Homo sapiens: one gene and its partners. The protein of the gene in region 2 interacts with the protein of the main gene of each other region in a pairwise test. Each region holds a gene or a part of one and is shown on either strand. Other genes may lie near its edges. The genes, in order: INTS4, PYGM, ARID1B, CDC42BPB, NIPSNAP2, IGBP1 and PPP1R3B.

The links.
Region 1: the proteins of PYGM (region 2) and INTS4 interact in a two-hybrid assay, tested with the Homo sapiens proteins (one large-scale study listed by BioGRID and IntAct).
Region 3: the proteins of PYGM (region 2) and ARID1B interact in a two-hybrid assay, tested with the Homo sapiens proteins (one large-scale study listed by BioGRID and IntAct).
Region 4: the proteins of PYGM (region 2) and CDC42BPB interact in a two-hybrid assay, tested with the Homo sapiens proteins (one large-scale study listed by BioGRID and IntAct).
Region 5: the proteins of PYGM (region 2) and NIPSNAP2 interact in a two-hybrid assay, tested with the Homo sapiens proteins (one large-scale study listed by BioGRID and IntAct).
Region 6: the proteins of PYGM (region 2) and IGBP1 interact in a two-hybrid assay, tested with the Homo sapiens proteins (one large-scale study listed by BioGRID and IntAct).
Region 7: the proteins of PYGM (region 2) and PPP1R3B interact in a two-hybrid assay, tested with the Homo sapiens proteins (one large-scale study listed by BioGRID and IntAct).

Annotation. Positions count from the first base shown.
Region 1 is NC_000011.10:77,925,147-77,929,569, forward strand, and holds part of INTS4 (integrator complex subunit 4), read right to left. Parts: intron 3,402-4,423; coding exon 3,196-3,401; intron 1-3,195. UniProt on the Homo sapiens protein: Component of the integrator complex, a multiprotein complex that terminates RNA polymerase II (Pol II) transcription in the promoter-proximal region of genes.
Region 2 is NC_000011.10:64,752,937-64,757,359, forward strand, and holds part of PYGM (glycogen phosphorylase, muscle form), read right to left. Parts: intron 2,623-4,423; coding exon 2,511-2,622; intron 2,420-2,510; coding exon 2,337-2,419; intron 1,901-2,336; coding exon 1,757-1,900; intron 1,410-1,756; coding exon 1,317-1,409; intron 1,090-1,316; coding exon 943-1,089; intron 747-942; coding exon 583-746; intron 252-582; coding exon 137-251; intron 1-136. UniProt on the Homo sapiens protein: Allosteric enzyme that catalyzes the rate-limiting step in glycogen catabolism, the phosphorolytic cleavage of glycogen to produce glucose-1-phosphate, and plays a central role in maintaining cellular and organismal glucose homeostasis.
Region 3 is NC_000006.12:157,199,455-157,203,877, forward strand, and holds part of ARID1B (AT-rich interactive domain-containing protein 1B), read left to right. Parts: intron 1-1,250; coding exon 1,251-2,034; intron 2,035-4,411; coding exon 4,412-4,423. UniProt on the Homo sapiens protein: Involved in transcriptional activation and repression of select genes by chromatin remodeling (alteration of DNA-nucleosome topology).
Region 4 is NC_000014.9:103,047,026-103,051,448, reverse strand, and holds part of CDC42BPB (serine/threonine-protein kinase MRCK beta), read left to right. Parts: intron 1-4,423. UniProt on the Homo sapiens protein: Serine/threonine-protein kinase which is an important downstream effector of CDC42 and plays a role in the regulation of cytoskeleton reorganization and cell migration. Regulates actin cytoskeletal reorganization via phosphorylation of PPP1R12C and MYL9/MLC2.
Region 5 is NC_000007.14:55,997,209-56,000,679, reverse strand, and holds the end of NIPSNAP2 (protein NipSnap homolog 2), read right to left. Parts: intron 3,315-3,471; coding exon 3,231-3,314; intron 1,673-3,230; coding exon 1,608-1,672; 3' UTR 501-1,607; downstream 1-500. UniProt on the Homo sapiens protein: Protein involved in mitophagy by facilitating recruitment of the autophagy machinery required for clearance of damaged mitochondria.
Region 6 is NC_000023.11:70,160,375-70,164,797, reverse strand, and holds part of IGBP1 (immunoglobulin-binding protein 1), read right to left. Parts: exon of another isoform or gene 2,334-4,423; intron 1-2,333. UniProt on the Homo sapiens protein: Associated to surface IgM-receptor; may be involved in signal transduction.
Region 7 is NC_000008.11:9,147,859-9,151,942, forward strand, and holds the start of PPP1R3B (protein phosphatase 1 regulatory subunit 3B), read right to left. Parts: upstream 2,801-4,084; 5' UTR 2,705-2,800; intron 1-2,704. UniProt on the Homo sapiens protein: Acts as a glycogen-targeting subunit for phosphatase PP1. Facilitates interaction of the PP1 with enzymes of the glycogen metabolism and regulates its activity.

The DNA of each region.
Region 1 (4,423 bases), about 13 Mb from region 2:
ACAAGAGCCTTTTTGCAACTAGGAAAAAGGACAGGCTAAGAAGAAAGGCTAAGAGAGAGGCTGGGAATGGCCAGTTAGCAGAACACTCAGAACACACATACTTATTAAGTTTGCCATCTTATACAGGCACAGTTTGTGGCATCCCAAAACAATTACAACAGTAACATCAAAGATCACTGATCACAGATCACTGTAACAGATGTAATAATGAAAAAGTTTGAAATATTGCAAGAATTACCAAAATGTGACACAGACATAAAGTGAGCACATGCTATTGGAAAAATGGCACCGATAGACTTGCTCAATGCATGGTTGCCGCAATCTCTCAATTTATTAAAAAAACACAATATCTGCAAAGCCCAATAAAGAGAGGTATACCTGTATGTGTTAAATGGAGGAGTGAGGGAAAAAGTCAATCTATCTGAAGTGAATTTCAAGATTTCAAGAATGAGAAATATTAAAAGAGAGGCAAATCGAAATGTCACTCCTATCCATAAAATTCTGCAACAGTTTTCCATAATGTTAGAATAAAATCCAGACATCTTAAAATGGCCTACAAGGCTCTCCACCTGTCCCTAATCCCCTCTCAGACTTCATCTCATGCCACATTTCTACTTTCTCACTGTGGTTCACTCCTACTGGCTTTCTCTCTATTCTGCAAACACAACAAAGCTCACTTGTGTTTTAGAGCCTTTCCACTAGCTGTTGCCTCTACCTGAAGTTATTCTCCCAGTCTTCACATAGCTAGCTTCTGTTTATCATTCAAGACTCAACTTGAACATCATCTCCTCAGAAAGTCTTTACTAACCACTCAAATTACAGAGAAATTCCCCATTCCTCAATCATACTGTTTATCTTCTGCAAAACATTTATCACCATCTGAAATCATTTTGTTTGTTTACTCCACCTCTCTTTAGAATATAAGTTTTATGACAGCAGGGATCCTGCCTGTTTTGATATCCCTATATTTCTAATACATAGACAGTGCTTGTTGAATAAAGAAGTGAATTTTTCTAGGCAGGGTAGGATCTTGACATAGCAGGAAAAAAAAAAGGCAAATTCCAGCTGGAAGGGTCAGCAAGGTAAGGCTCAAAGCAATGAAGCCCAGTGACACAGAAAATATAAGGGAGAAGTACACAGCAGGGTGGAAGAATAGTCTACTGTAAGTTTATATTGGTCTGAACTCCTGAAAAGAATTAAAAGGCAAGGATTCTTTGTGAGTTATATACATAAGTACTCACAAATAAGCATACCTGTGAACAATTCTGTACATCAAAACATAGCTTGGAACATAGCTCAGCTACTCAGCAAACACTTACCGAGCACCTAATTGTGCCAGACACTGCTGCAAGACATTGGTAATAAAAAAATGAAGAGTCAGCCGGGCACGGTGGCTCACACCATAATCCCAGCACTTTGGGAGGCCAAGGTGGGTGGATCACTTGAGGTCAGGAGTTCGAGACCAGCCTGGCCAATATGGTGAAACACGATCTCTACTAAAAAAAAAAATATATACAAAAATTAGTATTGTGGTGCGTGCCTGTAATCCCAGCTGCTCGGGAGACTGAGGCAGGAGAATTGCTTGAACCCAGGAGGTGAAGGTTGCAGTAAGCCAAGATCGTACCACCGCACTCCACCCTGGGGAACAGAGCGAGACTCAGCCTCAAAAAAAAAAAAAAAGGAAAGGAAAGGAAAGGAAAAAGGAAAGGAAAGGAAAAGAAAAGAAAAGTCAAGACACCTTGAGGAGCTCACAGTCTTATGAAATAGAGAATTACTGAAAAATGCTACAGCAGTATACACAGGGTGCTATGGGAATAGAGTGGTGGCATTTAGCCCACCCAGTGCTGGGAGTAACAGTTAGGGAAGGCTTCCTGGATATGTTACCTAATATAGGCTGTGGGAATAAGTGGACGTCTCCTGGGTTAAAGTGGCAGTTTTGCAAACTGTGGGGGAAAATTACATTGAAGGTAAAATTGTGAGGAAAAGCAATATGTGTAGGAAAGTGACTTCAGCATAAAGTTCAAGGTGAGGAATGGTGGAAAAGAAAGCTAAAAAGGAAAGGAGTGGCTAGGCTATGTATGAGGCCACCCATGAAGAACCGCACATAGAATGTAAACTTATTTTTAGGAAAAAATACATGAAAAAATTATAAAGATTTATAATTCAGGAAAAATCTCAGTAGAAGTGCTAAGCAGCTGAGAGAATGGTAGGGACCTTCAAAACCAAAGCACCAGCTATTCTTTAAAGTACGCAGTAGAAATCTGTTACAAGTGTTCTAAAAACTAAGCACCTAATCACTATCCCTTTCACATCTGAACCCCATCTTCCCCAAAAAAGGAAACCAGAGGACAAACCCCATTTATGAATACTCTGAAGAACTTGAGTAGTTGCAATTAAAATCCAGACATTTTAGAAAAATAATACAAGAACCACCTAGAGCTGTATGGCCTGGGAAGCAACTCTCTGTTTACATTCTGGTTCAGCCACTAACTCAAACAACTTATTTTTTTCTCTATAAAATTCCCAGGGTAGAATGAATCAATCCCTAAGATCACTTGCTGCTATAACAGCCTATGATTCACTACAAGAATAAAATCAAATTAAAGGTTGAAAAGAACTCTTCATTATTTAGCCCCTACCTTATCTATAGCCACGTCCTCCACTCTTCCATCTCTTCAACTCTACACTATCATTATAATAAACTCTTTTTAGTTCCTTGAATATATCATATTCTGTCTTATCTCTGCATCTTTAGACATTGCTCCCTCTGTCTGGTACCCTTTCATCCTACCACCAGTGTCACTTCTCCTTTAAAAAAGATGCACTTCAGCCTGAGTGACAGAGTGAGACCCTGTCTCAAAAGAAGAAGGCAAAAAAAAGCCTAGTTAAGTCCTACTCCTCCTTCAAGTGTCCACTACAGCACTTCCTCCTTCTTCCCAACCTCACCTCAGCCAATTCAGGTTAGACACTATGTATTCCCTAGGCATCCTATCCTTTCTTGATCACAGAAAGACCAAGCTTATTCAAATTTCCTGTTTCACAGTCAATTTCTTCCATCTTAGGGAAGGGGTATGGTGAGAAAACAGAACTGTGCTCCCTGATATAGTGTTCTGTCACCAATGCCTAGCACAATACCTGATTTTAACAGGGGGGGGTGAGGGATGAAGAAATGAGTAACAAATTAGAAACACTCACCTCTAGCACAGCCAGGACAGTGTCAAGCTGATCTTCTCGGAGGGTGATGTTGTTAGAGATTTTTCTCATGGTATGTATAGACTGCAGACGTACTTCCTCAATTTCATCGTTGAACATGTCAACTAGGAAATCAAGGCACTTCTCAGCAAAAGAGGGTGAAGACTGGGCCAACATGCAGAGGGCCTCCACAGCAGCAATACGAACCTCTAGAAAAAAGAACAAATGAAATTGCACATCAGGCTGGGCACAGTGGCTCACGCCTGTAATCCCAGCACTTTGGGAGGCCAAGGGAGGCAGATCACTTGAGCCCGCCTATGCAATGTGGTAAAACTCTGTTTCTACCAAAAATATTAAAAAATTAGCTGGGTGTGGTAGCGTGCGCCTGTTGTCTCAGCTACTTGGGAGGCTGAGAAGGGAGGATCACTTGAACCTGGGAGGCAGAAATTACAGTTAGCCAAGGTCATGCCACTGCACTCCAGCCTGGTGACAGAATGAGACCCTATCTCAAAACAAAACACACAAAAAACAAATTAGCCAAGTGTGGTGGCACACGCCTATAGTCCCATCTACTTGGGAGGCTGAGGCAGGAAGATCACTTGTGCCCAGGAGTTTGAGCCTGCAGTGAGCCATGATCGTGCCACTACACTCCATCCTGGTGACAGAGTGGGCCCCTGTCTCAAAAAAAAAAAAAACTCCAAAAACAAAAAAACAAAAACTGCACATCAGCCAGGTGCAGTGCCATACACCAAAGTCCCAGCTACTCAGGAAGCTGAGGTGGGAGGATCATTTGAGCTCAGGAGTTCAAGGCTGGCCTGAGCAACACACTGAAGCCCCATATTTTATATATATATATAAAGTAACTCATATCAAATTAAGAGCCATGGGATAAGTCCAAGATGGATTCCTTCTCCTTCAGGCTGTCTTCTATTCTCTACTCCTCTCATTCTATAAACTCTCCCTGGGAGATCTCTATGCCCACAGTTTCACATACCACCCACCTTAACGTCGATCTAAGAACATGGACTTTAGTATCACAAGGACTATGGCTTAAATCTGACACCACATATATGTGATGAAGTCACATGTCTGTCTACATTAACTTCTTGAAAATTAAATTGTCTTACTTATCTCAGTATTCTGACCACAGTACTTTTTAAAAAGTCAGTTAGTAAATAATGTTATCATTAAGATTAAAGTAGACTAAATATCATTGTTCGAATTTTAGAGG
Region 2 (4,423 bases):
CTTGGGGAACACAGTGCAGGAGGGATTTCAGCCTTCAGCTGGGAGCCCTGATGCAGTGAACCACCTACACGACCATACCCAGCTGATCCCTGCAGGGACCCATGTTGACTCTACTGGCCCTACGGTGGCCTCTCACCTCAGCAATGACCTCTGCCAGCCCGGGGTTACACAGAACCAGCCAGCGCCGAGGGGTGATGCCGTTGGTCTTATTCTGGAACTTATGAGGCTCCAGCTCATAGAAGTCTTTGAAGCTGCAGGATGAGGTTGGACGAGGGTCACCACTCACCCCTGTACAATGAAGGCCTCTGCCCTGGGGCCCCTACCCTGGTGTCTTGCTGAAAGGGGCCTGGGGCAGGGAATGCAGACCTGGGGAAGGTTGGGGGTGCTGTGTGTAAGAGGAGGTCATCTCAGGACAGGGCGGCACTGGAAGGGGCTGCTGTGCTTGTAAGAATGACGCCACCTGTGAAAGGCGCCAGGGCCCAGAGACCAGAGAGTGGTCGGTGAAGGGCGGGGCTTCTGTGTGACAGAGGCGTGGAGTGGGTGGGGCCTAGAGAGGGGCGGGATCTGGAAAGCGGGGCTCACATGGTCTTCTTGAGGATCTCGGAGTGGATGCGCGCCACGCCGTTGACGGCGTGCGACCCCGCGATGCACAGGTGTGCCATGTTGATGCGCTTCACTGCGCCCTCCTCCACCAGCGACATGCGCCGCAGCCGGTCTACGTCCCCTGGGAATGCGGCCGCCACCCGCTGTGCCCAGAGAGCCCAGAGCTAGAACCAGACCCAGGAACCCCCATCCCCAGTCCCCAGCCCCACACCCCCAGAGCTCTGCCCAGTGCCCCCACTGCCCCAGAGTCTCAGGGCCCTGGCTGGACGCCCCGACTCCCAGGCCCAGACTGGGTGTCCCCCCTCACCCCCACACCATCCCCCAAGCCTCCGGACTCACGTTGAGGAAGCGCTGGTTGATCTCGTAGATGATCTGGAGGTGCCGCGGCAGCAGCGTCTCCAAGAGGTGCACCGGCCAGCGCTCCAGGGCCTCGGGCAGCACCGTGTGGTTGGTGTAGGCACAGGTCCTCACTGTCACATCCCACGCCTGGCACACGGGGTGGGCAGTCAGGATGCTGACCTCAGCCCAGTGGGTCTCCTCACACACTACGCATCCCAGTGGGCCCCCCCACTGCAGTGCCAGGTTCCAGGACGGTCCCTCTGGCCTCAGGCTCTGATCCCTTCACTCCATTCATATCCTCCCACGCTCCCAAACTGGGAAGGGAACCCCGAGGCAGAGAGCATCAGATGGGGCAGAGGGGCCCTGAAGCCCACCTTGTCCCAGTCCATCCGTTCCAGGTCCACCAGGATCCTCATCAGCTCGGGGATGGCCAGGGAGGGGTGGGTGTCATTGAGCTGGATGGCCACCTGGGGTAGGGGGAGGGGTCAGTCTGGGCTCCAAACCACATTCCATGCTATGGTCACTGCCCTATGCCATTTGGAGGCCCCCAGAGAGCCCAGCACGGTTCTGTGACTGGGCTGTGGGCAGAGGCAGGCCGGTGCTCATGGGGGTGGGAGGAATGGGGGGAGTGGGGCGGGAGGAGGAGGGAAGCCCAGGTTCTGAGCCTGTGGATTGTGAATCCTGAACAACTGACCCTCCCACACTCCCAGTCTCCACTCCCTTATCTATTACATGGGGCAGGCAGGCCGAGGCTGGAGGGAGAGGCCTAGCACACACTGTCCGGTCACAGAGTCGCCCTCCACACGCATGGTACCTTATCTGGGAAGGCATCGAAGTTCGTGCGCACGGGATCACGGCAGCCGAACTTGGAAGACTTGAAGCGACGGATGATGTCCTGGAGGGTGGCAGCCACCACGAAATACTCCTGCTTCAGCCGCAGCTCCTTCCCTTCGAAGAACTGGGGACAGCATGAGGCAGCGTGAGTCAGGGCGGTGGGGGCATGGCCTAAAGCTGCGGTGGGTGTGGCCAGGAGGGACTCCCACCCATACCGGGACCCCTGAGCCCTGAGCCGGCCCCCTCTCTGGGACCCAGGGGCCTTTCCTCCACCAAGAACTAGTGGCGAGAGACAGTGTCAGGAAGAGGGGTACAAGAACCGAGTGTGTTGTGGGTGTCGCCAGGGAACAGCCCCTCCAAAGTGCCCTTCGCTAACCCAGTTTCCTCAGGACTCAGGTGTCCTTGCACTCAAAAGACTTGAGGTGGGGGCACAGGATGCACAAGGCCAGCAATATGCCCTGGGTGTGACTAGGGCACCAGCAAGTGTCCTTCCCCAGCTCTCCCTGACCCCTGCTGCCAAGGACTCAGGCTTCCAGCCCCCAGCCCAGGGGGTGACGCACATTATCATTGGGGTACAGGACACGAGAGATGTTCTCCGCCAGGTTTCGGTCCAACACAGCCTGGATGTAGCCACCGACATTGACTGAGGGACAAAAGTGGGGACAGGGTAAGGCCTGCGCTGGGCGTGGCCGGCGGGCAAGCTGGGGTTGCTGGCTACCAGTGGATGAACTCACAGTCCTTGAGGTTGAAGTCATTGGGAGCCTTGGCAGACCAGAGGCGCATGGTGTTGACAACATTGTTGCGATAGCCAGGCACGGGCGTATCGTAGGGCATGGCCAGTACCACCTGCGGGGGGCAATCCTGTCAGGAGCTGGCCAGCCCTGGCAATTGCCTCCCTCCCCTCAGGGCTGGGACTCAAGGCTTTATCCCTGCACTCTGCAGACCCAGGCTCTTGTCCTTGTCTAGCATCGATGAGCTGGGTAACCATGAGCAAACCCCATAGTCTCTCTGGACCGCATCTAGAGCAAAGACACCCTCAACACCTCCCCGACACCCATAAGCCCTGCCTGGGCAGACGGTGGTGAGGAAAATGGAAGGAGGCAGGTGATAAGCCCGGAACCCAGGAGGGGCTCTGTTGGCGACCACTCTGCAGCAATGGGGGCTGGGCTGGCCAGCCTGGCCTGAGCAAAAGCTAGAGGACACTGTGGACTCATGAGAGGGCTGGGGGAACCCAGGGCCAGGCTGAAGGGGTCACAGAGGTCAAGTCCATCCAAAGGTCTCATCTCTGGTTGACCACAGGGCTAATTCACGGTGACTAATTCTGCCCCGCCTTCCATAACTAGCAAACATCAATAATTGTCTGCTACCACGGTGCCAGGGGTACATTCACTCCTCTAAGCGAGCCCTTTTAAGGGGCATCGCCCTCCCTCCCCACATTCAGTCACCCTGATTGGTGCAGGGTGGGAGTTGACACAGAGAGAGGGAAGGGACCCATCCCCGAGCACACAGCCAGGCTGGCAGCACCAGAGGGAGCCAGGTCTCCTGCCTTCCAGCCACAGCCACTTGTGCCAGTTGCCACGTGCACCTGGCATGGACTGCCAGCAGCCCCCACTGCATCTTAACCTGGAGGACAACAAACAAATGCTCAGTTCTGAAAGCCTAGTGGTTTATCTGCAGCCCATCTGGGGGCTGATGACCTGAAGCTTCAGCAGGAAGATTGCCTGAACTGGGATTTGTTTTTTGTTTGTTTGTTTTTGAGATGGGACCTCACTCTGTTACCCAGGCTGGAGTGCAGTGGCACTATCTTGGCTCACTGTAACCTCCACCTCCTGGATTCAAGCGATTCTCTGGCTTCAGCCTCCTGAGTGGCTGGGATTACAGGCACGTGCCACCATGCCCGGCTAATGTTTTTGTGTTTTTAGTAGAGACTGGGTTTCACCATATTGGTCAGGCTAGTCTTGAACTCCTGACCTCAGGTGATCCACCTGCCTTGGCCTCCCAAAGTGCTGAGATTACAGGTGTAAGTCACCACGCCCGGCCTAAACTGGGATTTGTACACCTGGTTTGGTTTTAAGGTTTTCAGTTTTTGGTCTTTTTGCTTTTTGAAACAGTCTCACTCTGTCACACAGGCTGGCTGGAGTGCAGTTGTACAATCATAGCTCACTGCAGCCTTTAAATCCTGGACTCAAGTGATCCTCCCACTGAAGCCTCAGAGTAGCTGGGACTACAGGCATGCACCAGCACCCTGGCTAATTTTTTAAATTTTTTTTTTGAGACGAGGTCTGGCTCTGTCACCCAGGCTCCTGGGCTCAAGCAGTTCTCCCACTTCAGCCACCCGAGTAGCTGGGACTACAGGCGCACACCATCACGCCTGGCTAATTTTTGTATTTTTTGTAGACGGGGTTTCGCCCTCTTGTCCAGGCTGGTCTCGAACTCCTGAGCTCAAGCAATCTGCTCACCTTGGCCTCCCAAAGTGCTGGGATTACAGGTATGACCCACTGCCCCAGTCTATTTTTTTTATTTTTTGTAGAGACAGGGTCTCTCTATGTTGCCCAGGCTGGTCTTGAAATCCTGAACTCAAGCCATACTGTCACCTCGGCCTTCTAAAGTGCTGGGATTACGGGCATGAGCCACTGTGTCTAGATTT
Region 3 (4,423 bases), on a different chromosome or scaffold from region 2:
GACCAGTGCCGCTGCAGGAACCGCCCTTCGTGGTGTGGCTTTCCAGACATACAGGACTTTGCTGTTTTTAAAAAACTTTTCAGATCTGAGAACTCTTGCAAAAAATAAAAATTTTGAAAACTATATATATGTTATATAATTATAATAATTATATATAATAATATGTATATCATTTTTCATTTATTTAATTTTGCTGGAGCATATAGGCACAAGGAATTGCTTTTTTTCTTTTTTTGAGATGGAGTCTCGCTCTGTCTGGAATCCAGTGGTGCAATCTCGGCTCACTGCAACCTCTGCCTCCTGGGCTCAAGCGATTCTCCTGCCTCAGCCTCCCAAGCAGCTGGGACTACAGGCACCCGCCACCATGCCCAGCTAATTTTTGTATTTTTACTATAAGAGACGGGGTTTCACCATGTTGGCCAGGCTGGTCTTGAACTCCTGACCTCAGGTGATCCTCCTGCCTCAGCCTCCCAAAGTGCTGGGATTACAGGCGTGAGTCACTGCGCCTGGCCAGTGAATTGCATTATTAAACCAACTGATCTTAAACAGTTTTCAAGTAAAGTGGAAAACATCAGCATCTCACTGCCTCCCATCAGAGTCCCACCTACCCCGATTAAGCACTGGTCCCGGAGCATCCTGGGAAGCAAGCTTAATAACAGGTGTGGTCCCAGCCCTGTCCTCAGTGCTGGGACCAGTGGGGCTTTGGGGGAGCCACACCTGACCAGGCCAGAAGTCAGGGCAGGAGCCGTGGGATGGATGTTGGGTGACACGGGCCAGTCTGGGGAGCCGAGTCCTGTTCGGGGGCTTTTCTGTAAAATGAGGCCCAAGAAACCCTTTTACCCCAAGACCCTTTCAGGCCGGCCCCTGGATGCTGGCTTTCCTGTGAGAGGGTCCTTCTGCCTCCTGCTGTGGTCCTAGTGCAGCTCCCAGCCCGGGAGCCGTCTGCCTGTGTGGGAGTTGAACGCTGGCTGTCCCGGTGGCACAGCCTAAGGAGAGGAGGCTTTTTTTTTTCCACAGGAAGTTTCAAACACGTGAAAACAAACTTTGGATGCTCTCTCCTCAGTGTGTGACATGGTGTATATAATACTGAAATATTGAACATAAATTGTTAGTTCTCTGTTGTTATAGGAGCTTCCCATATTCATTTTGAAATGAACATTCTAGCAGGTAATAACTATTTTGCATAATTTCAGTGTGTGATTATACCTGTAAGAGCACATCAGGATGATTTGTCTTTCTGTGAATTCCAGAATTACAAACGCCATATGGACGGCATGTACGGGCCCCCAGCCAAGCGCCACGAGGGCGACATGTACAACATGCAGTACAGCAGCCAGCAGCAGGAGATGTACAACCAGTATGGAGGCTCCTACTCGGGCCCGGACCGCAGGCCCATCCAGGGCCAGTACCCGTATCCCTACAGCAGGGAGAGGATGCAGGGCCCGGGGCAGATCCAGACACACGGAATCCCGCCTCAGATGATGGGCGGCCCGCTGCAGTCGTCCTCCAGTGAGGGGCCTCAGCAGAATATGTGGGCAGCACGCAATGATATGCCTTATCCCTACCAGAACAGGCAGGGCCCTGGCGGCCCTACACAGGCGCCCCCTTACCCAGGCATGAACCGCACAGACGATATGATGGTACCCGATCAGAGGATAAATCATGAGAGCCAGTGGCCTTCTCACGTCAGCCAGCGTCAGCCTTATATGTCGTCCTCAGCCTCCATGCAGCCCATCACACGCCCACCACAGCCGTCCTACCAGACGCCACCGTCACTGCCAAATCACATCTCCAGGGCGCCCAGCCCAGCGTCCTTCCAGCGCTCCCTGGAGAACCGCATGTCTCCAAGCAAGTCTCCTTTTCTGCCGTCTATGAAGATGCAGAAGGTCATGCCCACGGTCCCCACATCCCAGGTCACCGGGCCACCACCCCAACCACCCCCAATCAGAAGGGAGATCACCTTTCCTCCTGGCTCAGTAGAAGCATCACAACCAGTCTTGAAACAAAGGCGAAAGATTACCTCCAAAGATATCGGTAAGAATTCCAAAGCTTTCATTCTGAAATGAATTCCAGTTGCAGTGTAGAATTTTAATTTTAGTAAAGATGCTGTTCCTGCTCATCTTAAAGGGATGAAAAAATTATGACTAGAAGTTATCAAGATGCGTTTTTATATAGGAGTAATATAGTTGGAGGCTGCTAATCTGAATTAAGAAATAGTGCCAGAAAGATTGGCCGGGCGCGGTGGCTCATGCCTGTAATACCAGCACTTTGGGAGGCCCAGGCGGGTGGATCACGAGGTCACGAGATCGAGACCATCCTGGATAACACGGTGAAATAAAATGGTAGTTTTACGTGTGAATGTTATTTGTGTGAAAGATTAGAGCTTCAAGTAAGAGATCAGGGAATCCTGAGTGGTTATATGCTGTATTTTGGGCTTAAAGATTTGAACTTAACCAAGCCACTTAATCACTACAATACGTGCCTAACAGACCCCCCCATGAGGCTAATGAAATGCTAAAGGTGACCTGAGAAAATCTGAAGGCAAGCCACTCTGTAATTTGGTGACAACATACAGTGAATTTCCGTGGGAAAAAGTTAAAGCTTGTATGTAATATGTAGATTGATAGATGGTATGACATAAAGAATATGCTATGCTGTGATACATAGAACTGATATCATCCAATGCACTGGTAGACTTGGGCCAAGAACCATGTCAATCGAATGCTGATGTTGCTTGTTTATCCTCTGTGGGATGTTCTGAATACTAATCAGAGGTCTGGACTATCTGGAAGTACACACAGGGTTTCTGCATTATTTTTGAAGTACTTTTAACACAGGAAGGAAGATAATAGATCTGAGTTATATTAGGAAAAATTACTCAAAAAATATCAAGAACAAATTGACTTAAAATCTTTTTCAGTGATTAGAAAATTAAAGATATTAATAATTTGAAAGACATCAATCACTGGACATTAAGGAGATGTAGATTGAGAGACCAGGGCAGGAGAATCACTTGAACTCAGGAATTCGAGACCACCCTTGGACAACCTAGCAAAACCTCGTCTCTACTAAAAAGAAAAAAAATTAGCCAAAAGTGAGATTCATTTCTGTAGTCCCAGCTATTCAGGAGGCTGAGGTAGGAGGATCACTTGAGCCCAGGAGATCAAGGCTTCAGCAGTGACTGTGCCACTGTATACACACACACACACACACATATTCCTTTATATATATCTATCCATTTATATATAATGCATGTGTATCTATATCCCTTTATATATATATATAGATAGATATAAATATAGATATATAGATATATATAGAATATGTGTGTGTGTGTATTTATATGGGGTTGCAGAGGGAGAGAAGGAGACACAGACACTGAGCACCATTTTATATATAGAAATATATACACACACACACACGTGTATTGTGTGTTTATGTGTGTATATGTATGTTTAAATAAATACATCTAAATTTTCTAAAAATCTCCCAGTGCGGGTTATATAGCATTTGTCTTCAACCTAGGGAAATTTACATGTTTATTTTTAAAAGTAATTTTGATTTTTTTATTGTAAAAACAGTATGTAGCTATCTTAGAAAATTTTAAAACAGATAAAATAAAAGTGGAAAAGCCACGGTGTCTCCCCCTCATGCAATGATTCTTGGTGCCTGGAGAATGCCCCCAGCCTCCAGGCAGCTCCAGGGATCTGGCCGAGCTGGGTCTCATGGCAAATCTTCCAAACTTTCTACCTGATCATTTTGTTTCCTTCAGTAGCAGGAATAGGGAAAACAACAAATTACTTCCCATTCTGTGGCTCCAGCCATACTCCTGAGAAATCTGAGCCATCAAAGTGCTAATATTTATCACAGCATGTTCTGAGGGCAGGAGCACAGGACTAGAGGAAAGCAGCCTGGGAAGCCAAGGCCGTGTGTCTGAGGAGGCTGTCTTGGAGTTAAATTTTGCTTCCATGTTCTGCATACTTGGCGGCCTTCCAGGACGCCACCTTGAGACACTCGTGAGTGGTGAAGCCAAAAGAAGACAAATACCACTTTTGGGTTTGACTCATTTATTAAAAGCTCTGATACCACATTGCAGACTCTGTAGGGTGGCTGAAAGAAATAACCCGGCCATGAGAAAGGACCATCTGTGCTCAACCACTCCACCTCCAGAAGCACTTTCGGCCCCTGCGTGACCAACAAAGCGAGATCTGAAACCACAAAAGTTTCTCGTTACAGCTATGGCCTCCATTTAAAATCGGAAATGATCACGCTTAACTGTCCTTGAGAGCATTTGTTTAAAGTCAATATTTAACTTAACACTCCACTTATTTTTTCTTACTCTTTCGTTAACTTTCGTTCTTTCATGCATAGAGTCAACATTCATGATATCCTTGTTCTTCCCCATCTTCAGTTACTCCTGAGG
Region 4 (4,423 bases), on a different chromosome or scaffold from region 2:
AAGCTTTTTTTTTTTTTTTTTTAGCTGGAAGAGACTAAAAACAATGTTACCATGTAATCTCATCCCAAAACCCATAACATAATACCTATTAGTCCTTGACCACGTTTGTTTTTTTCTTAGATTCTTAGTGTTATGGGATGACGGTATGTTATGGTTACCTTAAATTTGTGTGAGAAGCTCACAGAAAGCCTCTCTTGCTAATGAGAATGGATGAGAGGAAACACCCTCTCCTTAAATCTAAAATCAGAAGTGTTTTGGCAATGTGAACTGCGTGTAGTAATCTCCCGCCCCCCCGCCCCAAATACACTAGCCACTAACTGGGAGATAAAGGTCAAGTTTCAGTTTGATTTTAAACAATCTGTGTTGGGGGTTAGGTTTTTGGTTAGTTTTATTGATTGGTAGGTAACAGTGGCAACAAAATTGTTTTTTGATTAAAACTGCAAAAAATCGATGTGTAATAGAGAACTTCTTTGGATTTTTGTTTTTCTTAGGAATTAGAAATTCAAACATAAATTTGAATGGAATGATATAATTTCATTCAAATTCGGTCCTTGGATTGGAGAGTCTTTGGAGAACATTTGGGACCTATTGTAAGGTGATTCCCAGTGTTAATTTAGGTGATGATTTCCCTGACCTCCAAAATTGCAGAGTCATAGGTTGGAAAACTGTTAAGAATTTTTTTTTTTCCCCCCAAGACAGGGTCTTGCTCTGTTACCCAGGCTGGAGTGTAGTGGCTCTGTCATGTCTCACTGCAGCCTTGACTTCCCAGGCTCAGGCAGTCCTCCAGCCTCAGCCTCCTGAATAGCTGGGACAATAGGCATACACCGCTACACCTGGCTAATTTTTTATTTTTTGTGGAAACGAGGTCTTGCTGTGTTGCCCAGGGTGGAATTGAACTCAGGCTCAAGTAATCCTCCTACCTTGGCCTCCCAAATGTTGGGATTATAAGTGTGAGCCACTGCGCTCCGCTATGTTAGGAATTTGGGGAGGTCATGTTAACCTGCCCTCCAGCCCACTCCCCACTCAGGTTGGGTAAACCAGGTTCTGAGCATTTTCCCTAACCGTTTCTGGGCAAACAGCCCTCTAACCAGCATTTCTGTCCTTCACAGGACTGCGGTCAGCCTCAGGCCTCCTTGCAGGTGCCTGCTTTGAAATATCTTTATTTTATTTTAGCCTTTTCTTTCTATTCTCATTGTCAGGGACCTAGGTAAAGCTCTCAGGTCCTCAGGCCTAAATGAATGCCTTTCCCACTTGAAGTTTTAAATACCTCTGCCAGATCAGTCTCAAACTCTCTTCATCACTCTGCCTTTCCAAAACTACAATGCCTTCATATTCTGTTGCCTTTAAAATAAAAAGTCTGATATCCACAATTCAGTATTAGAATTTGAAATTGACCCCAAAAGACGCATCTAATCTTAGCTTTAGAAGTTAAGGTTATGGCCGGGTGTGTTGGCTCATGCCTGTAATCCCAGCACTTTGGGAGGCCGAGACGGGTGGATCACAAGGTCAGTAGTTCAAGACCAGCCTGGCCAACATGGTGAAACCCCGTCTCTACTAAAAATACAAAAATTAGCCGGGCTGGTGGCGCACGCCTGTAATCCCAGCTACTCAGGAGGCTGAGGCAGGAGAATCACTTAAACCCGGGAGGCGGAGGTTGCAGTGAGCCGAGATTGTGCCATTGCTCTCCAGCGTGGGCAACAAGAGCAAAATTTTGTCTCAAATAAATAAAAAAAGTTAAGGTTAACAGCACTTCCCACCATGCCCCATGGGGTGATTTTCTTTTAACATCATTTAACTTTTATCAATGTAATGCATTTACTTAGTTTTGGAAACTAAGCGGTACTACTGGGTTGTAGTGCAAGACAGCAGTCCCTCTACCAGTCGCTTGCTCCGCGCTCCAACTTCCCACAGACTACCACTTTTAACTGCTCTGTTTCTACTTATCATTTTAGTTAGGATCACATTTAGCTGCCAGTAATGGAGAACAAAGTGACAGTGACTTAAATAAAATCAGGTTGATTTCTCTCACGTGAAGTTGACGTGTCAGCAGTCAGTGCTAGTTGGACAGCCTTGCTCCAAGAGGCCTCCGGGGCTGTGGCCTTTTCCCACCCTCAGGCCACCATCTGAGACGGTGGCCATCCCACCCTCCTTCAGCCAAGCAGGCCGGGGGTGGGATGTTACTATAGAAGATCCTTGGATATTGGTGGGTGCTTAGCAATGCCTGCCTTAAATTTCATATTTCTGTGTAGCATGCTGGTACTGCTAATTTCTGATTTTACCATTTTAGACATTGCTGACTTCTGCTGTAGAAGAGGCCTTAGAACTGTTCTACATTGTCCCTCCACTGCCTGAAACACATTCACCCCTTGCTCTTTTTCTGTGTTCCAAATATGTTTATATAATTTTGTTTAAATTGGTAATTCAGTGTCTGCATTCTTATTGTTAGGTAACTGTCTTCACAGCTAAGCCATGTAAGATACAGTTTACTAAGGGAAATAGTTTTGTGTTATTGGAGTGAATTTTCTTTATTTTCTTTTCTTATAATAATCCCATGGAGTAAATTTTTTTTTTTTTGGAGATGGAGGCTCATTCTGTTGCCCAGGCTGGAGTGCAGTGGCATGATCTTGGCTCACTGCAGCCTCCGCCTCCCGGGTTCAAGTGATTCTCCTGCCTCAGTCTCCCGAGTAGCTGGGATTACAGGCACCCACCATCACACCTGGCTAATTTTTTTTTTTTTTTTTGAGACGGAGTCTTGCTCTGTCGCCCAGGCTGGAGTGCAGTGGCCCGATCTCGGCTCACTGCAGGCTCCGCCTCCTGGGTTCACACCATTCTGTCTGAGCCTCTCGAGTAGCTGGGACTACAGGCGCCCGCCACCATGCCTGGCTAATTTTTTTTTTTTTTTTTTTTTTTTTTTTTGTATTTTTAGTAGAAACAGGGTTTCACCGTGTTAGCCAGGATGGTCTCCATCTCCTGACCTCGTGATCCACCTGCCTCATCCTCCCAGAGTGCTGGGATTATAGGCGTGAGCTACCGCGCCCAGCCATGCCTGGCTAATTTTTGTGTTTTTAGTACAGATGGGGTTTCACCATGTTGGCCAGGCTGATCTTGAACTCCTGACCTCAAGCAGTCCGCCCGCATTGGCCTCCTGAAGTGCTAGGATTACAGGAGTGAGCCACCGCTCCCGGCCGAATTTTCTTTAGCTTGGTTTTCAATGTACAGTCATGAATTTAGTGCCAGGCTTTTAACTAGAACTCCTCCATTAAACACCTCACATAATCTTATCACCTTCATCCCTTCCAGGCCTGCCACTTTTCTGTTTCAGCCTGGGCCGGGTGTCCTGCGGGCCTGCTACTGAGCAGTCCTCCTTGGAGTGCTTTTCATTCCTTGCAGGGATTCTTCGTGTCTCTTTCCTCTGTTGAATTCCCCTTTCTGGATTCTGTGTCTTTCATCTTTTGGTGGAGTGAATCTTCTAGTAGCTTCCTGAGAAAGAATTCATCGGAGGTGAATTTTTTGAACCAGGTCTGTCTGAAAATGCTTTTTTTTTTGGACACAGAGTCTTGCTCTGTTGCCCAGGCTGGAGTGCAGTGGTGCAATCTTGGCTCACTGCAACCTCCACCTCCCGGTTCAAGCAGTTCTCCTGCCTCAGCCTCCCGAGTAGCTGGGACTGCAGGTGCACACCACCACACCCAGCTAATTTTTTGTATTTTAGTAGAGACAGGGTTTCACCATGTTGCCCAGACTGGTCTCGAACTCCTGAGCTCAGGGAATCTGCCCGCTTCGGCCTCCCCAAGTGTCAGGATTACAGGCATGAGTCACCATGCCTGGCTGAAAATGCCCTTTCTTCCCTCACATTTGAATGGCACTTTGCCTGCGTACAGAATTCTAGGTTGGAAGTCATTGTTCCTCAGAAGTTTGAAAGCATGGAGGCATTGCTGTCTACACTGAGAGTGTTGGTAATGAGAAGTCGGAGACCACGATGGTTTCCAAGTCTCTGTGTGGGACTTTTCTTTTGTAAAATCTCTGGAAGCTTTCAGGGAACTCTTGTTTATCTCTAATGTTCTTTGGTGGGTCTTTTTGATTGGGACGCTTGGGTCCTTCAGCTCTGGGGAACTTTTGTTGATAATACTGTAGTTTTAATGTTTGTTCTAATTTTTTTTTTTTTTTTTTTTGAGAGTATTACTCTGTTGCCCTGGCTGGAGTGCAGTGGCGTGATCTGAGCTCACAGGAACCTCCGCCTCCCAGGTTCAAGTGATTCTCCTGCCTCAGCCTCCCAAGTAGCTGGGATTACAGGCGTCCACCACCAAGCCCAGCTAATTTTTGTATTTTCAGTAGAGATGGGATTTCACCATGTTGGCCAAGCTGTTCTCGAACTCCTTACCTCGTGATCCACCCGCCTTGGCCTCCCAGAGTGCTTGGGATTATA
Region 5 (3,471 bases), on a different chromosome or scaffold from region 2:
CTGCCTCAGCCTCCTGAGTAGCTGGGACTACAGGCACATGCTACCATGCCCAACTAATTTTTCGATTTTTTGTAGAGATGAGGTTTCATTCATGTTGCCCAGGCTGGTCTCAAACTCCTGCGTTCAAGGGATCCTCTGGCCTCGGCCTCCCAAAGTGTTGGAATTACTGGTGTGAGCCACTGGGCCCGGCCACTAGGGTCTTTCTAATGGCCTCCAACACTCAAGGGATCCAGCCCTGTGACCTCTGAGCTCGTGTCCCACCACACTCTCCCTCATGTCTGCTTCTGCCACTGGCTTCTGCTGCCCTCAGCACATACCAGGCATGACCTTGCCCAGGGCCTCGTAATTTGTTCCTATGGAGGGATTTTCCCCAGAAGCCAGCTGACTTCCTCACTTCCTTCAATCTTTTGTGACAAGCTATTTTGCAAGAGTGACAAGGTCATTCACAGCAATGTTTGTCAATCTCAGAACAAATTAAAAAAGAAAATCCAAACGTGATATGTGGAAATTAAGAGGATTTTATTGACTTTTCTATGTTCTTTGAGAAAATCATTCACATGTAAAAGTTTGACATTTGATATGAGATTTATTCACACTTTACACATACATTCTTGATTGTGGGGCAGACAATTGTTCATTTCAACAGGACTTTCACATGGTAACAGTCACAAAATTGGCATACTATATTAAAAAATGAAATCAAACAGCTAGACAAAAAGTATGCAGCTTTATGCCAATTTAAATCTCAACATGCACCACCCCTCACCCATGATCTCAGAATTATCTGCTGTGAGCTTATTAAAATATTAGCCAGAGAGTGTCTGAGGTCACAAATGATCGTTTACAAAATAAAACCTCTTTTCCTAGAGCTACTTGTTTTGTTATAGAAAAATACCACAAATAAAAATTAGTGCTATTCAAGGTGTTCATTTCAAAATCACATATGATACACAAGTTTCAAGCCATTGTTTTTGTGTCTCACATTGAAACATCACAATACATGATGTGAAACTGATTTACTGATTAAATGTACCTTGCCCAGCTTGGAAAACCCATTGTCTACTATGTGGACTGCTTACAAATGAGAGTGAGTTAAAACATTTTCAGTTATTGGGTACACTTGTAATTTGTTCCTCCTCAGAAACTACTCAGAAAAACTGCTTGAGAAACATGACAAAATTTGTATTTCTTCCTGATACAAGAAATTTGTCTAAAAATCTGTGATTATAAAACAGATTTGTTTTTTGGTTTTTTTTAGTAAAGAAATGGCTAAATTTTTTTTGTGGTTGGAATCTTATTTTCAAGATGATTCAGAATTCAACGTGGACCCCTTCTGGAGGGTGGGGAGAAGTGGCTCAGTGTTATAAGGTATACTGGACAACACGGGGTGTTTCAAAGAGGACGACAAGGCACTGTCACAATCAGTCCAACTGTAATTCTTTCCTTTCTTGTGATTATGTAAATTTTAAAGAAAAGAGGTTTCTCACAAGCTATATACAGCAGCTTAAAACCTCAGTGTTTCTTTTTCACTTGATACACAATTAAAATTAATTTACGACAAATACTTGTCACAGAAATGTATGTAGGCACATAGAAACTCTACAGCTTTACTGGAGGGGCGAGGTCTTCAGTGGGATCATGATTCTGGATTCCATTTCCTGAATAAGTGGAACTGAAAACAAGATCAGGGTTACTGCACTTGTTACTTTCTAAACACATTATGGTAAATGACACTAACAGACAGATTGCCGAGAATGTTCACAGATGTGCTGCTTGAAAACAAGAGAATATCATAATATACAGGACTAACCTCAAGGGCAGAAATATACAAGCGGACCCTGTATCAGCTGCCATCCTACAAGATGCTATTAAAATTACAACAGATCAGCTGGGCGCAGATCACCTGTAATCCCAGCACTTTGGGAGGCTGAGGCAGGTGGATCACGAGGTCAGGAAATCGAGACCATCCTGGCCAACAGGGTGAAACCCTGTCTCTAGTAAAAATACAAAACTTAGCTGGGTGTGGTGGCGCCTGCCTGTAATCCCAGCTACTCAGGAGGCTGAGGCGGGAGAATCGCTTGAAACCGGGAGGCGGAGGTTGCAGTGAGCCGAGATCGCGTCACTGCACTCCAGCCTGGCGACAGAACAAGACTCCGTCTCAAAAAAAAAAAAAAAAAAAAAAAAAACAGATCCTACCTGGATATTTGTTTTATTTGTGGGAGGTAGGAAAAGTCCATACTGTGAGGAGAAATGGTGATTTCTCAAACGTTCGCGTAAGCAGCAAAATCAAATACAATTATATAATTATAACATGTAATTATATGTTATATAATCTCTTGAACTGAAAGACAAGGTAACACCTACTTTCTAGGACAAATTACTCTTTTATTTTCTTGGTAGTATAGGGGCTGAGATACACTTTTTTTTTTTTGAGACGGATTCTTGCTCTGTCACCCAGGCTGGAGTGCAGTGGCACAATCTCCACCTCCCAGGTTCAAGCGATTCTCCTGCCTCAGTCTCTCAAATGGAGACAGGTTTCATCATGTTCGTCAGGCTGGTCTCGAACTCCCGACCTCAGGTGATCTGCCCACCTCAGCCTCCCAAAGTGCTGGGATTACAGGCGTGAGCCACTGCGCCCGGCCTGAAATATACTTGCCATGCAACATGGCTGGTACTGATTACCTCTACCAATGCCACTGGGTTACATTCAGCCAACTGTTTTCTTTTAAAAATCAAGCAAACAGGGTTTCATAATATACTTATGTATGTGCACATGCATGTATTATGTACCCAGATACATACTGTACATACAGGAAGTTTAATTTATCTAATTTCAAAATCACTCTTTAATTGATGTATTAAGTTCTGATTTGGGATACTAACAATTCTGATGGAAAAGGAAAGCTTAGAAAAAAATTTTATTTGTGTAATAAGTTTTCAGAGAATATAGAAATCTACAAAAACAGGTAATGATGTAAAATTTACAACATCCAAGGGTCTGAAAACTGTAACAGATGATATACCTATTTGAAAGCATGGATATTCTACTTTATTGAAAAAAAGTCATGTAAGTATTAGAGAAAAATTGACTATCTCCCTTCCCCCCACAACCTGATAACTCACTATCCTAGCAACATACTATTACAAAACCCACCTATTAGTGTCAGGGTGAAAGAACATGATTGAAACAGTAAGACAAAAAGCATATTTCATGGCTGTTAAGAGATTACCTGTGTAATATACCAATTCCTCCCAGCCATGTTTGTGCCATGCTGCATTCCGTATGTCTTCCCTGGTCTGAAGATCCCTGTAAGCTTAAAAATAACCACACAGAGAAGTAAGACTTAAAACACATACACTGCATTCCACCCATACATCCGTTAAAGTCTTGCTTCACCTGGACATCTAGTTTTCTCAGGGACTACTTCAGGTGTGTAATATACTGGGCTGGGGAAATTCTGAGCAAAATTA
Region 6 (4,423 bases), on a different chromosome or scaffold from region 2:
AAACCCTTTACTATAAAATAAAACATGGTGGAAACCACACAAGTACATATAAAACAAATTTTTGTAAGGAGGCCTTATAGCCTCCACTCAGGTCAAGAAACAGATCTCCTGTATCCACCCTAAAAGCCTCTCTGTGTACATTATACAAATCAACTCTCCTCCCCTGCAAAAGTAACCTCTATACTGCTTTTTATAGTAATAACTTCCTAGAGTTCATCACAGCTTTATCACCCAAGTGCATACCACTAGACACTGTAATTGTCCATTTGTACATTCATTTTTTTACTCAATGTATTTTTTAGTACAGAGTTGTGCAACTATCACCACAATCCAATTTAAAAAATTCTATAACCCCAAAAGATCCCTTGTGCCCATTTACAGTTAATTCCCATTCCTTCCCTCCCTGCCCCCAGCTCCTAGAACCATGAATCAACTTTCTGTCTCCATAGATGTGCCTATTCTGGACATTTCATACACATGAAATCAAAATCATGTAATCTGTGATCTTTTGCGGCTGACTTCTTTCACTTAGCATCATCACCTTTTTTTGTTGTTGTTGTTGAGACAGTCTTGCTCTGTCTCCCAGGCTGGAGAGCAGTGGTGCGATCTTGGCTCACTGCAACCTCCACCTCCCGGGTTCAAGTAATTCTCCTGCCTCAGTCTCCCGAGTAGCTGGGATTAAAGGTGCCTGCCACCACACTCAGCTAATTTTTGTATTTTTAGTAGACATGGGGTTTCACCACATTGGCCACGCTGGTCTCGAACTCCTGACCTCAAGTGATCTGCCTGCCTCGGCCTCCCAAAGTGCTGGGATTACAGGTGTGAGCCACTGCGCCTGGCCTAGCATCGTATTTTTGAGGTTAGCCTTGCCTATTTAAAAATGTTTTGATATCTTTTTAAATCTATGGGTTCCCCCTCCACCCCTTTCTTTCAAGTTATCTGTTGAAGAAGTTGGGGCATATGACCTGTAGAGTTTGTTTCCCAAAGACTGGATTTTGCTGATTGCATACTCATGATGCAGTCTAACATGTCCTCCTTTATTTTCTGCAGATTGGCAGCTGAATACAGAGGCTTGATTTGACTCAAGTTTGATCCCTTCAGCATGAATTATAATTATAGGTGGTGCTGCATTCCTTCATCAGGAGGCATGTAAATATCTCTGTCTCGTTGTAATGTTAGGAGCTGTTGATGCTCAATGCCGAGACCCATTCATTTATTGGGGGGTTTCAAAAAGGTGATACCCTTAATTTTAACTTTTTAAAATTAACTGGAATACTTTTACAAAGAGAGCCTTCCCCTCATCAACTACTATTTGGTTACCTAGTAGAAAAGATAAAATACTTGACTCTTTCCCTTTATTTACCATTTCTCAAGATATTGGGTTCCCTTATTAGCCTCTGAGGTTGAATAATTTGGTCTTGTTTTATAATATAATTATGGGCTGGGCACGATGGCTCACACCTGTAATCACAGCACTTTGAGAGGCTGAGGTGGGAGGACTGCTTGAACCCAGGAGTTCGAGATCATCCTGGGCAAGATGGCGAGACCCTGTGTCTACAAAAAAAATATTTATGACACTTATATTGGCTCAAAAAATTATAAAAAAGAAAAAAACTTTTAAAATCTGCCAGGCATGGTAGTGCATGGCTGTAGTCCTACTCACTCGAGAGGCTGAGGCAGGAGGATTGCTTGAGCCTGGCCTGGGCTCAGAGTGTGAGACCCACCTCTAAAAAAATAAAAATATATATATATAATTATGAACTTAGAGATTTAAACATATCTGGTGAGTTTCAGCCAGTTGCAACTATTATTATTATTTTTGAGACAAAGGAGTCTTGCTCTGTCACCCAGGCTGGAGTGCAGTGGTGTGATCTTGGCTCACTGCAACCTCCGCCTCCTGGGCTCAAGCGATTCTCCTGTCTCATCCTCCCGAGTGGCTGGCATTACAGGCATGTGCCACCACGCCTGGCTACTTTTTGCATTTTTAGTAGAGATGGGGTTTTATCACATTGGCCAGGCTGGTCTTGAACTTCTGACCTCAAGTGATCCACCCACCTAAGCCTCCCAAAGTGCTGGAATTACAGGCGTGAGCCACCGCGCCCGGCCCACAATTATTGTTTTAAAAAACTATTTAAATCAACTTCTTAATTTTAGAAGTTTTCAATTTACAGAAAAATTGAGAAAATAGTACTGAGTTCCTACATAACCACACCCAGTTTCTTATCATCAACCTCTTACATTAATACAGTTTCTGTGATACAACTAATGAACCAATACTAATATATTATTAACAACTAAAGTGCATACATTACTCAAATGTCCTTAGGTTTTACCTAATGTCCCTTTTCCGTTCCAGGATCCTATCCAGGTCACCACAGTACATTTTGTTGTCTGTTTCTTTAGTCTCCTCTAGGATGTAACTCTTTCTCAGACTTTCCTTCATTCTGATGACCTGGACAGTTTTGAAGAGTACTTGTCAGGTATTTTGTAGAATGTCCCTCAGTTTGGGTTGCCTATTTTTTACAGAATTAGACTAGGGTTATGGGTTTTGGAGGACAATACTATATATGCTATCAACCTGACTTCACACTGATAATAACCTCGATGACCTGACCAAAGTGGTATTTGTAGGTTTCCAACTAAAGTTACTTCTCCTGTCTCCTTCCACATTGCAGTCTCTGGAAGCAAGTCACTAAGCACAGCCCACACTTTCGGGGTACACAGTCATGCTACACCTCCTTGAAGCAGGAGTATCTACATAAAATTAATTGAAATTTTTCTGTAGGGGAGATTTATCTCTTCTCCCTCATTTATTTACTTATTCAACCACTTATTTCTATCACAATGGACTTGTGTGTATTCATTTTATTCCTAGTGTGATAATCCAATACTGTTAAATTTACTTTCCTGCCCAAGTTCTCCCAGTTTTGGGCTGTGAGGGTGCAGCTGGCTCTTGTGTTCCTTTAACACCCCAACAGTTTTTTGAGCTCTTGTTTTCTAGTACAGAGAGCCCTGAGTTAAGATTTTTCAAGTTTATGATGGTGTGAAAGTGACATGCATACAGTAAAAGCCATACCTCATATTTTGAGATATTCAATATTTTAGTATAAAATAGGCTTTGTGTTAGATGATTTTGCCCAACTGTGGACTAACGTAAGTGTTCTGAGCAGGTCGAAGGTAGGTTAGGCTAAGCTGTGATGTTGGGTAGGTTGGGTATAGCAAATGCATTATCAACTTAACAATATTTTCAACTTAGAATGGCTTTACCAGGATATAACCCCATCATACGTTGACTATCATCTGACTACGAGATGCTCCAGGTTCATCTTGTATATTCCCTGCCTCAGCCCTAGAATCAGCTATTTCTCCAAGGAGCCCTGGTTCATTTATTAGAGGATGGTATTAGAAACCAAGATTTGGGTGTTGGATGGACTTGTTGCTACTGTCAATTATCCTCTGTGAAACCGAATTGGCCAGTGGAAACATCTTTAAATTGGCTCGATATGACCCCAGTAGTCTTTGAAAGCTCCTTCCCTATCTTTTATGACAAGATGTTCCAAGCTTATTTGTATATTTCCTGCCCCAGAATTGTAGTCAGTTATTTCTCTAAGACACCCTGATTTCTTAAAAGAAAGAATATTGGGAAGAATATTTCTGTATCACAATTGGAGTTACTAGGTATACTCATTGCTACTGGGCTGGTCCTTGTTTCTAAGCCTTTTCAGTGAATAGAGCAAAAGCAGGGGTGGGTGTGTGTGTGTGTTTAGTTTTAAATAAAATTTCTCATGAGTTCATATGGAGTACTACAGGGTTTAAAAAAAATCTAAATTCTTTGGAATTACATCTGTATTCTTTCACATTAAAAGTCCTAGTTCTCAAAGACAGAGGATGATAGAATTAGATTATCTAATAACTGCTCATTTATATTATCTCACATTATACATAGTCTTGGAATAATAACACTAACTTTGACACTCCACCAATATAATTACTGAGAACTGTTAAAATTTTGCATGATTTCCCCATTTCTCCATTTTTAAAAAGTTATCTACATTATCTGGGCACATAGGCATTACATACTCTATCTCCCTTTTAATCCTCATTTCATCTTAATTCTACAAGTAACTGTACATTTAACGCTTGCTACCTGTCCTTATTTCAATGTCTCTCAACACTTTGGCTGTCTGAAGCTCATTCTCTAGCAAATTCATGGGATGGTGGAACAATATTTCTTGAATTCCTGCATGTTGATAAATATCTGTACTCTTTATACTTGAAAGTCAGTTTTACCAGGTATAATGTTCCTTGGCTCACATTTTTTTCCCTCTGAGTTTCTTAAATACCTGCTATTCCATTTTCTTCTTTCTTCTGGCATAAAGTATAGATCTCAAAAAATCTGAGGGTAACCTAAGTTGCTTTCCTT
Region 7 (4,084 bases), on a different chromosome or scaffold from region 2:
GGTTATGATGGCTCAAGAGTTACCCGCAGGACTACTACCCCAGGGACATTGCACAAGCAACCCCAGTCTAGAATCCCTTCACTTTGTGTGTCACCATAACTGCAGGTGAGGACATTAACCTGTGTGGCCTCAATCTGGGGTATGACTCGACTGTCAGTCACCTTGCCTGTCCCACAGATAGCTTCCAGATTTTATTTACCAGGTCATTCTCCAAGAATCAGCACACCAAAGTGCTGGTTTGGTGTAGGCTTTCCTGAACTGCTCAGGAACTCCCCAGCGGACTGTGACAGGGATGGCTGCCGCCATGCAGAAGTACTCCTAGCAACTGAGATGTGCAAGGTAATATTAAGTTCCTGAAAAGAAGGCACCTGGACAGGTGCTTCTTTTACAAATGACATGAAAATGATCGGTTCCAACACAGGAAGCACCAGGCTGCAGCCCAGCCTCCTCTCCTGACAGACTCTCTGGCTGCTCCAGCTCTGTCCTTTTCCCAGGCCAGGGAATATGAGTCACCAAAGTTGGCCAAGGGGGAAAAAAAAAGAACCAGAAGTTATGGACATACATTTGAACCATGAGAGCAGGACTCAGGATCTGATACCAGTTGCAGGATAGGAATGAGTGTATGAGTGCTGCTCCCAGGTAGGTATGAATTCTCAAACACTTGCTTCCATAGAGATGCCTCAGAGCTCAGGGATCAGTTTCTCTGGTGAGAGACTGGGCCATGCTTGAGGGTAGATTACAGTGTTCATGGCTAAGACAGGGCAAACCCTAACAGATCATGGAGATAGTTTTGCATAAATGCTTTATCTGTTCCACTCATAACACACCTTCTCAAGACAGCTGGCCAAGGTTAGACGGCCATGGTGATAACTATAGACCTGCACAGAAAATAACCCTATGACCTTCACGGTTTCAGGCAGCTGAACTACTGACTTTCTGGCTGTACCTTTCATAGGGAGGAAATCTTTTTTGTATCAGGGCCACGACATTATCCCCTCCATTCTCTTATTCTCTCTCTCTCTTTCTTCTGGTAAGAAAAGACAAAAAGGCCGGGCGTGGTGGCTCACGCCTGTAATCCCAGCACTTTGGGAGGCCGAGGCGGGCGGATCACGAGATCAGGAGATCGAGACCATCCTGGCGAACACGGTGAAACCCCGTCTCTACTAAAAATACAAAAAAAAAAAATTAGCCGGGCGTGGCGGCGGGCGCCTGTAGTCCCAGCTACTCAGGAGGCCGAGGCAGGAGAATGGCGCGAACCCGGGAGGCGGAGCTTGCAGTGAGCCGAGATGGCGCCACTGCAGTCCAGCCTGGGCGACAGAGCGAAACTACGTCTCAAAAAAAAAAAAAAAAGGCAAAAAAAGGCCGGGCGTGGTGGCTCACGCCTGTAATCCCAGCACTTTGGGAGGCCGAGGCGGGCAGATCACGAGGTCAGGAGATCGACACCATCCTGGCTAACACGGTGAAACCCCGTCTCTACTAAAAATACAAATAAAAATTAGCTGGGCGTGGTGGCGGGCGCCTGTAGTCCCAGCTACTCAGGAGGCCGAGGCAGGAGAATGGCGTGAACCCGGGAGGCGGAGCTTACAATGAGCCAGAGATGGCGCCACTGCACTCCAGCCTGGGCGACAGAGCGACACTCCGTCTCAAAACAAACAAACAAAACCAAACAAACAAAAAAATCAGATGCACAAGCAACCCACCAGGAACACTGAAAGCTGCCGAACTGCATTCAGTAAACATTCACAACCAGGTTATAATTTTCATTTTTAAAGACATGGCCATCTACCTCCCTCCAACAATTCTGTGTTCCCTTCCAAAAGGTTTCACTGATCCAGCATGAAGAGAGTGCATGTCTTTCCCCTTTGTACTCAGACCATGGGGGCCTATTCACAGCCTTAAAGGCTCCTTGTACCCCTTGATCCTGTCCCCATCATCCAAAGCATCTTGGAGACTGACATTTGTGAATACAGTTGCATATTCTAGGAAAGAGGCAAGTTCAAATGACACAGCCCCTGCCGTCTAAAAACGTACGAGGGAAAACAGAGTACTAGGCTAAGAATGCCCGCACCTTGCTTTGCTACTTGAGCGAGTCACTCAGCTGCTCTGGGCTTGAGGTCCCCTCCAAGGTCCCTGCTGGCCCTGACATTGTATGTTGCGACCCACCCCTGGTGCCGCTTCTCTTCCCACTAACTTTTTTTCCTAAATACCTCAACTGTACTTTTGTGTAAGTCCTCCAGCTGTCTTCACTTTAGTTTTGGCTCCTGGACAACTCTGCCCAAGGAAACATTTCCTCCTCTCCTCCTCTTCCTCCCAGACCAAAGCTCTAATTGTCTCTTCTGCTGCACCCTGGGTCTCCCAGGCAGGCCCCCGCCACTCAGACCACAGGTTCCAACACCTTCCAAGTCTCCAAGTTCCCAAGTCCAGTCTTTCCTCTGTTTTCTCCTCTTTTTCAGAAAACAGTGCTCTGACAGGCCCCAAATCTTCCAGTAAGTCATTACCGGCCCCCACTCCCTCTTTTGCAGCTACTGTGCCTTCCACACCCCTTTTTCTGGATTCCAAAGAGACGCAGGAGCAGGCCAGTGCTCTCCAGGCTGGAGGATCCCACAAGTTACTCTCCGACTCTGTCCCCTCCGTCCAGTTTGACCAGGGCTGCACTCCGCCCCCAACCTCCCTACAAGCCTCCTTGGCCTCGCGCCGCACCCACCTTTTGGGCCGCGGAGAAGCCCCCTCCCCAGCTCGCTCGCCGCATCGGAGAGCCCGCAGGGTTGTGGCAAGCGCGACTACGTGAGCGTCGGTGTGTCCGGGAGGCAGGGCCTGGGCTGGGTTCCCGGAGATGTCGGCGGTGGGAGGAAGACGACGAGGAGGAGGAGCCCGTTATCGCACCCGGGCGGGGCCGGCAAAGGGGCAACCCCGGCCGGAGCAAGCAGCGCGACACCAGCACCCCCGCGCGGCCGCCTGGCCTCCGCCAGCCCGGGACGGGGATCGTGCTAGGTCCCGTCGCCCTCGGTGGCCTGAGAGCCTACCAAGTGTATTTCCTCGCGTTTTATAGGGAAAATAAGGCCCGGAGAGAGACGAAGCGGCTTGTCCTTAAGCTCCAAACCCCACTACCCAACTTTGGAGAAGTCTCCAGACCTCTCGGGACCCGGGGCTGGGAACTTGTGCTAGTTTCGAAGCCAGAACAACAGGTGGTAAAGGGATCAGCCGCCGCAGCCGCAGCTCCCGGGTCACGGTCGCAGCCGGGCCCAGCAGCGCGGTGGAGCACGTGGGCCCGGGAGGCGCTTCCCAGCTGCGGTCCCTGGATCGCCCTCTCCACGCTGAAGCAACAGCTCCCTGGGGCCAGCTACCTAGAGTGTTCCAGCCCCGGTGTGCCAGTGCAAGTCGCACGGTGAAAATGTAGGTGACAGGAACCCAAAGAGGTCCCCGCTGCACGCCCTCGCCTTGTTGTCCCCAGCCCTTCCCTCGGACTCGAGACTTGGGGAGCTACGTACCGGGTTCAGCTCATAAGTCCCGAGGGCAGACGCGCCAGCCCGCGGCAGCATACGCCCTGGGGGAACAGGGACAGCTGCCGTGACGGCAGGAGCTGGGCCCGGGCTCGGGTTCGCGCCCCCCGCGGGCGGCGAAGTCCGTCCGTGCACGAGAGCTGCGCGGTCACCTCCTCCCTCCAGCAGTCACCCGGGACTCGAGCTCCCCGCGGCCGCGCTGCCCCCTTTAACTTTCCTGCCAGCTCTCGGGACCCCGGGGTCCATCCCAGGCCCCCTGCCACGTGAACGCCCCCCGCAGCCAATGGGCGCGCCCGGGACTCCAGCCGCCGACCAATGGGCGCGCAGCCACGGCGCTGGGGAGCACCGCTTCGCCACGTGATCGGCAGCGCGCCCGGAGTGATCCGGCTGCGGGCCAGGGTCTGGGAAGGGGGTGGTGGGTCGCCGTTTCATCAGAAGCCGGAGGACGGGCGCCAGGGGGCAACTTCCTACAGGAGGGCGTCCCGTTAGAATGACAGGGCTTTTGCAAAAGTCTGACACCCGTGGCACAGAGCGCCCCAGATATGGAGGGTTTCACAGGTAGGTATACTTCAGAAGAAATTTCC